Linked DNA regions of Homo sapiens: region 2 is reported to be linked to region 1. The links are microRNA targets in miRTarBase. Many come from high-throughput screens and were not tested one by one. Region 1 holds a microRNA gene; the other region holds the end of a gene's coding sequence.
What was found. The annotated mature microRNA hsa-miR-3074-5p reads GUUCCUGCUGAACUGAGCCAG and lies in region 1 at 2,301-2,321, shown strand. An mRNA with a match to its seed (bases 2 to 7 or 8) in the 3' UTR can be bound and repressed. Matches are read on the target gene's strand: a 7mer-m8 pairs with bases 2 to 8, a 7mer-A1 pairs with bases 2 to 7 and ends in A, and an 8mer does both.

Region 1 (4,150 bases):
TACAAAATTAGCTGGGCATGGTGGCGGGAGCCTGTAATCCCAGCTACTCGGGAGGCTGGGGCAGGAGAATCGCTTGAACCCGGGAGGCGGAGGTTGCAGTGTACAGAGATCGTGCCATTGCATTCCAGCCTGCGCAACAAGAGTGAAACTGTCAAAAAAAAGAAAGGAAGGAAAAAAAAAAGGCAGCAGCACACAGAGAGAAAGCATCGTTCATTCTAAATCTCCACAGGAAGCCGCGGTCGTGTATTTATTCAAACATAACAGTCAAGTTCTGAGCCATCCTCCACGATGGCACAGCCAGCTATACAGTCCCACGCAAAGGCATGTGACAGCAGAGAGCAAATCCTAAGAACGTTCTGGAATCAGTCACTGGGACAAGAAAAGAGAGTTCTGGAGACCAAGGCCTCCCAGTCCAGAGCTTCTAATGAGATCCATGGTAGAGCCCCACTTCACCCCAAACAGGCCAGAATTTGTGCTGCCCCCTGGAGCCAGGCAGAGGAGACTGTGGGTGTGTTCAGGTGCACTCATGCTCAGCCCAACTTGGCACAGGGCCCATGGCTGCACCCGTTCCTACAGCCTTCTCCAGGCATTTTCAAACATTCTGCCCCATGGACAGTGCCAAGGAAGCTCAGTGCCCAGCTTCTGTCTATACCCTAAACCTTGTGGAGAAAGAAAAATCATACCACCAGACTCCCACGATGCCTGAATATGCCCAGGCTCTCCATTTTATCGGAAGAGGGTGCCCCACGCGCAGCCAAATTACTTTTGTTTTCAGGCTTCTAAGAGAACTAACACTACCTTGAAAACAACAAAGAAACTAGTGAGGTGGGGGGGGAACACCAGAATGTGGAGAATACCTTTTTCTTGTACGTGCTTTTTTTTTTTTTTTTTTTTTTTTTTTGAGATGGAGTCTTGCTCTGTCGCCCAGGCTGGAGTGCAGTGGCGCAATCTCGGCTCACTGCAACTGCCACCTCCTGGGTTCAAGCGATTCTCCTGCCTCAGTCTCCCGAGTAGCTGGGATTACAGGTGCCCACCACCACGCCCGCCTAATTTTTTGTATTTTAGTAGAGACAGGGTTTCACCATGTTAGCCAGGATGGTCTCGATCTCCTGACCTCGTGATCCACCCACCTCGGCCTCCCAAAGTGCTGGGATTATAGGCATGAGCCACCGCACCTGGCCTTTATTATTTTTAAACAGTATGAAATTTAGAAGCAAACACGTATACAAAAAAAAAATCCATTACATTTATTAATAATATATCTTAGATTCTCATCCTGTTCTTTTAAATGGCGCCCACTGGTCTCATACAGAGGAGCTGTGTGACTTTCTGGAATTATAGAAATATCCGCATCCAGCCATGTGCTGAGCAGACCAATGTAAAATGTTCAGCAGGTTTTCCAATGTCTCTTGGATATATTTAATCATCTCTGCAGAAGAACTCAAAATCTCAGAGCAGCTCCACTCCAGATCCAGGGCAGGAGGCAGCCTCCAGGGAGGGAGGCTGCGTTTACGAGAATCTGCCTTTTGTGTGTGCCTGGCTGGGACCAGCCTCTGGGAAAGAGAAGCACCAAGATGTGAACAGGGCTGTGGGCCGATGGCTTTAGCAGCCACATAATCCCTCCTTTGATGTCCAGGGTCAGTTCGAGCCTGGTCCCCCAGGCTAGGAGGAGACGAATGAAAGAATCTTGCTGTGGTCTTTCCTGCAAAGGAAACAGCAGTAACATTGATTACCCAGTCACCGGGAGGAATTCTTGTGAGCGCGCACCTCTGTGTGCCTTTGCTCTCCACTTTCAAGAGAGGACTTTAATCACAGGACAAGGAGAAGACCCAGGCCCATTTCAGTCTCCGGGACGGGTCACAGCGAGCCGTGTGACGCTGGCCTGCTCACACGTGGCCATGACACCAGCAGGCTGTACTCAGGCTTTGCGTACACAATAGCTGCTAGGAGTACCCATTTCAGACACGCACCCACTCTAACTGTTCTCAGAAAGTCTCAGCTCACCTCGCCGTGGGAGAGCTGGGCCCTGCCTCCCTTACACATGGGGGCAAACGGCCCCCTGCTGGCACTGTGTCCTGCCTTCAGGCCTGGGAGCTCTTAACTTTCTGCCAACAGGGTTTTCCAAGTCTACAAACCCCCACGCCGCAGGAGCACATGCAGATGACTGGCACCGTGCTGCCGCCGGGCCGGGGTGGACGCAGGGTGGACGCGGGCCTGTCTGCCGCGAGTGGGAGCCCCAGCTCTCCTGAGCCTCGGGCACTTACAGACACGAAGGCTTTTTGCTCAAGGGCTCGACTCCTGTTCCTGCTGAACTGAGCCAGTGTGTAAAATGAGAACTGATATCAGCTCAGTAGGCACCGGAGGGCGGGTCCAATCGACAGCCCGGAGAAGCAGCGCCTCAGCTGGGAGCTCCGTGGGCACCGTCTGCTGGCGCAGGAGACGCGAAGGCCTGGACTGCAAATACAAGAGAGAGTTCACCGCGCCCAGAACAACAGGAGCTCCTCCGAAAGCCCCGCCCCGCCCCGCTCACAGCCATGAGCTACCACATGATTTCACACGACTTAGGTGATGCATTTGGTTTTAGTTTTTTGTAAGAAGAATTTTTGCAACTTTCAATACATTTGACCTTTCAGACAGATGTCCGATTAGTGCATGTTTCTGTGGACAGACTTAAGGACTCAGTACATGGCTAGCATTCCCAGCAGGAGACAGTGCATCCTTGGGGTCAAGTGGTCTCTCATCCTCCAGGATCGCGCTCCGCACCCAAGCTGACTGTGCAGCAGCGGCCGGCCCGTCAGCAACGGCCTCTGCCCCAGCGGCTCCAACTTAACTGTCCCCATCTCACCTTCTCTTCAGGTGCAGAACTTAGCCACTGTGAACAAAGCGGAAACCAATCACTGTTCACCAATCAGCTAAGCTCTGCACCTTGTTAGAGAGGTCATCGCTGGGCATAAATAAAGGGACGGTGACCGGTGAGCATCTTCCTCAGCTGGTGGCTTCTTTTGTTTCCAAAGAAGAGCTACGAGATGCACCTGTTCTCCAATCTGCAGTGAGCGCGACCACGGTTTCTGGAGGAGCAGCCAAGGTCGTGGTTGCGTGGTAATCCCTGGCAATGTGATTTTAATCTTAAGTCACAAATCAGCATGCCAGGAACCCAAGCAGCCAGAGCACCTGAGAGCAGCGCCACCCCGTGCTGTCTGCACACACTGGGCTTCCGCGGAAGGACGCCGGCGACACTGCCGCCTTCACGCCTGTTATGCTAGCAAACAGGTGGAGTTTCTGTTTGTTGTTCGTTTAGTTGGCATCCTAGAGGTATAATTTCTTGAATCAAAGGGACTCCAGAGATGACCATAAAAATGCCAGTGCAGCTTTGGAACTGAAGAAAAATGCAGGGACCGGCCATGCGACACACACAATTGCTAAAGGCAGCTGTCCTTGCTATTAGTTTACTGCCTCTAACCCTTGGGGACAAGATCCCTTCTCTCCAGGCAGATTCTAGCTGCCCTGGGAAGGCTTTGGGGACTCTCAAGTCAGGAGGTCCCCCTGCTGGAAGGGGCCCTGGGACAATCCCGGCCACTGTTCCTCACGGGGACTGGTTGGGGGGCAGGCTTGCAACCCCTGGATGCATCTGGAGGGGTGGGGACAGGATCGAAGATGCTGGGGAGGGGGAAAAGGGAGACTTGTGACCAAGATGACTCCTTTGCCTGCCTGGGCAAAAATTCCCCATAAAGAGTGGCGAGGGGTGTGCCCTGTGGTGCTGCTCCAAAACCTGCACCAAAGGGAATGATGAAAGGACTAGCTGGCCTTGTAGTTTCACACACTTTAACACGTACGCCACGAAATAACAAAACGAAAGAGAAACACCATTTACACTGATTACTATTATGAGGCCGGCAGTGAGGTAAGTGCACAGTCTGTGTGCCGCCAGCCCGTCCTGGAGGGGAGCCGCGTCAAGTCTGCAGCAGGCGTTTCGCTACGAGACGCTCAGTCCCGTTTCCCTTTCCTGGCACACATGGTTCCTGACTCTTCTGGAAGAATATGATCATGCTTCTGAAAAACTTTTTATTTCTTTTCATTATTAGAGTTCTTTCAGATAAATAAGCTACTTAAACACGTTACACAGAAATGGTTTTCATAAGCACAAAACATT
Region 2 (4,000 bases), not on the chromosome of region 1:
AACAAATAAAAATCTGATTTTTGTCAACAAATAAATTGCAGGATGGAGTGGGGGTCTGGGGGATCTTACAGATCAAAGGATGCCTAAAAGACTTATCAGCCAATCATAATGAGTAAATTTTAATTGGCTATTGATTGAAACTATTTTTTAAAATTATGACATTTATGAGCTAGTTGAAAATTTGAGCACTGCTTAGATATTTCATGATATTTAGGAGTTACTAATCACTAATTTTTTAAGAGGTGATAGTGTTTTTTTATTTAAAAAAAACTACATAGTGAATGGGGAAAATGAAAAAGTATCATGATTATGGTGGTAAACTGCTCTTATTTCTTCATTTTAAAGCATTTTCCCTAAGAAACATGTGCTTTTTATTTGTTTTTCAGGTTGCTGCATGATCTCAACTTTTCCAAAAATGAGATCCATAGTTTTACAGCATAATGAAGAGCTGTCATTGTCCTTTATTCAACTAGTTTATCTAAATTTGTGATTGCTTAGGGTTTTTTAAGAGAACATTTTTGTACATAACAAAAGGTTAACTAGAATCCAGCCTTCAGTTTCTTAAATGAAATCAAATGTTCCTTCAGTACAGGTAACTTCTTGGCTTTCTTTTGTACCACAACTTATTTTACTACTGATATTTGACCTGGAAAGTTAATCATGGCAACAAATACATACAGGATTCTTTGTTATGAATCACAAATTTCCTTGCCATTTAAATTATATCACTGTTCTACAATAAGCACTTGTGTTTTATGACATGATAAAGTAAATGATCACTTCGATCATGTTTCTATGCTGTAAAATGTCTTATTAGCAATACAGATTAAATTTTACCTTGCACTGTTAACTCAGGAAATGATCATTTATGTCCTTGTTATTAATGTTAAAACATAGAATGTTATAACTTATTAAGTGATCCAAACATTTTTTTGTGTGTGTATGGCATTGATGCAGAATAGAATAAAATTATACTTAAGTTCTTTTTAATCCTTGTGGTAGAAATGTGGTTGAATGCAACAATATTGGGCCAGCGTCTCAAGGGGAATTTTAAAAGGCAGCAATAAAATATATTAGAGACATGACACACATGCGCCTTTGGACTAGGTGTGTTAACAGAGCTTGAGAGAGGGAACCTTGACAGCTATTTTTACTCTTAGCCAAAAACAAAGACATTAGGAAAGAGAGTGAAAGTATAGTGTCTAGTTCCACAGCATAAAGTTATTATTTGGTGCTTTGGAATGGGTTGAATTTTAATTCTTTAGTCCATCTAAATCAGCTGGAAAAATGAGGAACATTCTGCCTTGAATGGTTCTTCCCCTGGTTGGCTGCTTTCTCCACAACTGGTGGTTCAGCAGGAAGCCCTCTTAGGTTCTTGCATGTGGGCAACTTATTTTCTCTTCCTGCTGCTTTGTGCAACTGTCAAATACTTTCACAGATTCAGATCAGCAAAGGGTATCAAGGATAGTCATTGTGAGCTTTTCGTGAGGAAACTGTTGAATGCATAGGTAGCTACTGTATAAGCTAACTAGGATTTTTCAGTCTTAGTACAGCTGCAATGTTTTCACAGAAATAGGGGATTGAAAGAGTCTCCAATTTCTCTGTAAATGATTTTGTAAACAGCTAAATCTTTGCTGAATGAATAATATACTCAAGAGGAACACAATATTAATATTCCCCAAATTACAGACGCCCAGCTTGTGAAGCTTCCTATGTGCAAATGGCTGGTTGAACACTATCACTTTTTCCTGTGCCTCTGTCTTCTGTAGCCAATTCCACCATCATCATTATTCACAAAGACAGGAATCTAGCTGTCCTGGACTGGTACTGTTCCCTGGTAGGTAACAAGAACTTTTTCTAGCTTCATGCCTTCCCCCTACTTATTTTTTTCCATCTAAGGGTGAGGTGATTTGGCTCTGTGTCCTCACCCAAATCTCCTCTCAAATTGTAATTCCCACATGTCGAGGGAGGGTCTTGGTGGGAGGTGATTGGATCATGGGAGTGATTGCCCCCATGCTGTTCTCATGATGGTAAGTGAGTTCTCATGAGATCTGATGGTTTAAAAGTGTGGCACTTCCTCCCCACCTCCTGCTGTATTATGAAGAAGGTCCTTGCTTCTTCTTTGCTTTCTACCATAATTGTACATTTCCTGAGGCCTCCCCAGCCATGCAGAACTGTGAGTCAATTAAACCTCTTTTCTTCATAAATTACCCAGTCTCAGGTAGTTCTTTATAGCAGTGTGAAAATAGACTAATATAAAAAGAGACTATTTACCACTTTTTTTTAGTTCATTTGCGATGTATCAAATCTAACTTAGCCAACATCTTTCTCATCTTTTCTAAGCCTCTTCTTTTTTCTCTCTCCTTTCCCAAGCAACAGAATCTCCTATTAGTCGCTATATGTAATGCTTCCTCATTCCTCCTTTTATGTTTTATATTTTTGTTTATATTTTATTTATATTTTGTTTATATTTTGTTATATTTTATTATATTTTGTTATATTTATATTTTGTTTATATTTTAAAACAAATCCATAAGTGTCTCCTGGGTAATCTCCACTGACATGATTTTATCAACTTACATGTTAATTCCCAAATGGGAGTGACTAATTTGAGAATCAGCTGAGCTTCAGTTTTCAATATCCATTTACTTCCTGCATACCACCCCACCATCCACCTAGTAAGCCATTCTAGAACTATTAGGAATCAACATCAATGTCCCCTTCTCCAGTCTGACTCTTCCATACCAGCTAACCCTGTCCTATCATCCCTCAGCTGGATTAGTACAGTAGCTTGATAATTCATCTTCATGCTGCAGTCCTGATCTCCTAAAATTCATTCTCCATTCCAGGGTATTCTAGAAGGACTTGGAGGAAAAAATCCCCTAAGTAGAGCCTCAGTCTTCCAATGAATGCAACCAAATACTGAGGAGCACAGATAGGAGTATAGTTTATCACTGTTATTCTCAAGCAAATAACTCAAAGACTCCTACATCACATATTTGCAGTGAAGAAGAATTACGCTCAAAGTCACATTTGCTTGCAAATTCTGCTTTTTTTAAAAAAAAGTTTATTAATTTTCTATTGCTGCTAGATCAAATTACTACAAACTTAGTAGCTTAAAACAACACCCATTTATTATCTCACAGTTCCATGGCACAGAAATCTAGGCACAATATGGCTCAACTGGGTCCTCTGCTTAAAGCCTCACAAGGCTGTAATCAGATTGTCAGCTGAGCTGGGCTCTTAGCTAGAGGCTGTAAGGGGAAGTCCCTAGATAAGAGTTCTTTCAGCCTCATTAGGTAGATTTCAGTTCCTTGCAGTTGTAGGACTGAGTTCCCCATTTCCTTGCTAGCTGTTAGCTGTGGGCTAGTCTTTGTTTCTAGAATTTGCCCACATTCCTTCTCATACTTTCTGTGTGGCCCTCTTCAGCATTAGTGGATGAATCTCATGCTTTCAGTCTCTCTGAATTCCCTTGTGGGCTTCTTCAGCATTGGTAGATGAATCTTATGCTTTCAATCTCTCTGAATTCCCTTTCTGCCATATCTTTCTTGCCCTAGCAAGAGTTCACTGCTTTTAAGATCTCATGTGGTTAGATTGGACCTATCCAGATATCCAGGGTAATCTTCCTATTTTAAAAATCTATAATTTTAATTATAGCTGTAAAGTCCCTTTTCCTATATAATATATTCAAAGGTTGCAGGCATTTGGGTGTTGACATCTTTGATGGGCACATTGTGTCTACCACAGGCTATAGAAAGAACAGAGAAATTTGTCCAAGATAAGATGATTAGGTTTTGTCTAGATAGGGGCCCTTGCTATGGGCCCTCAGTTTTTACCTTAATGTAACAGAACATGAGAGGAGCTTTGACACCCACCCCAAAAGAGTCAACTTCATTATGCTGGCAAAGGCATGGGTACAACCTGCTCTGTGATCTACCTTCTGAACCACACAAGCTTGTCCTGAACGAGGTTGGGGCTGAGTCTGTTGATAACAGACCCC

Region 2: miRTarBase lists CYB5R4 as a target of hsa-miR-3074-5p. Seed matches in the 3' UTR shown: 7mer-A1 at 853-859 and 7mer-m8 at 1,355-1,361.

The regions. Positions count from the first base shown.
Region 1 is chr9:95,084,234-95,088,383 of GRCh38, reverse strand. MIR3074 (microRNA 3074) reads left to right here and starts at 2,290; the gene lies at 2,290-2,370. It overlaps AOPEP (aminopeptidase O (putative)), which reads right to left. Exons shown (of 17, transcript NM_001193329.3): 17 at 1,225-1,702. MIR23B (microRNA 23b) reads right to left here and starts at 3,176; the gene lies at 3,080-3,176. MIR27B (microRNA 27b) reads right to left here and starts at 2,939; the gene lies at 2,843-2,939. It also overlaps MIR24-1.
Region 2 is chr6:83,959,438-83,963,437 of GRCh38, forward strand. It overlaps CYB5R4 (cytochrome b5 reductase 4), which reads left to right. Exons shown (of 16, transcript NM_016230.4): 16 at 387-4,000. The coding sequence ends at 441. It overlaps RIPPLY2-CYB5R4 (RIPPLY2-CYB5R4 readthrough), which reads left to right. Exons shown (of 18, transcript NR_174604.1): 18 at 387-4,000. Among named protein-coding and RNA genes, the nearest start is that of LINC02857, 59 kb to the right of the region's middle.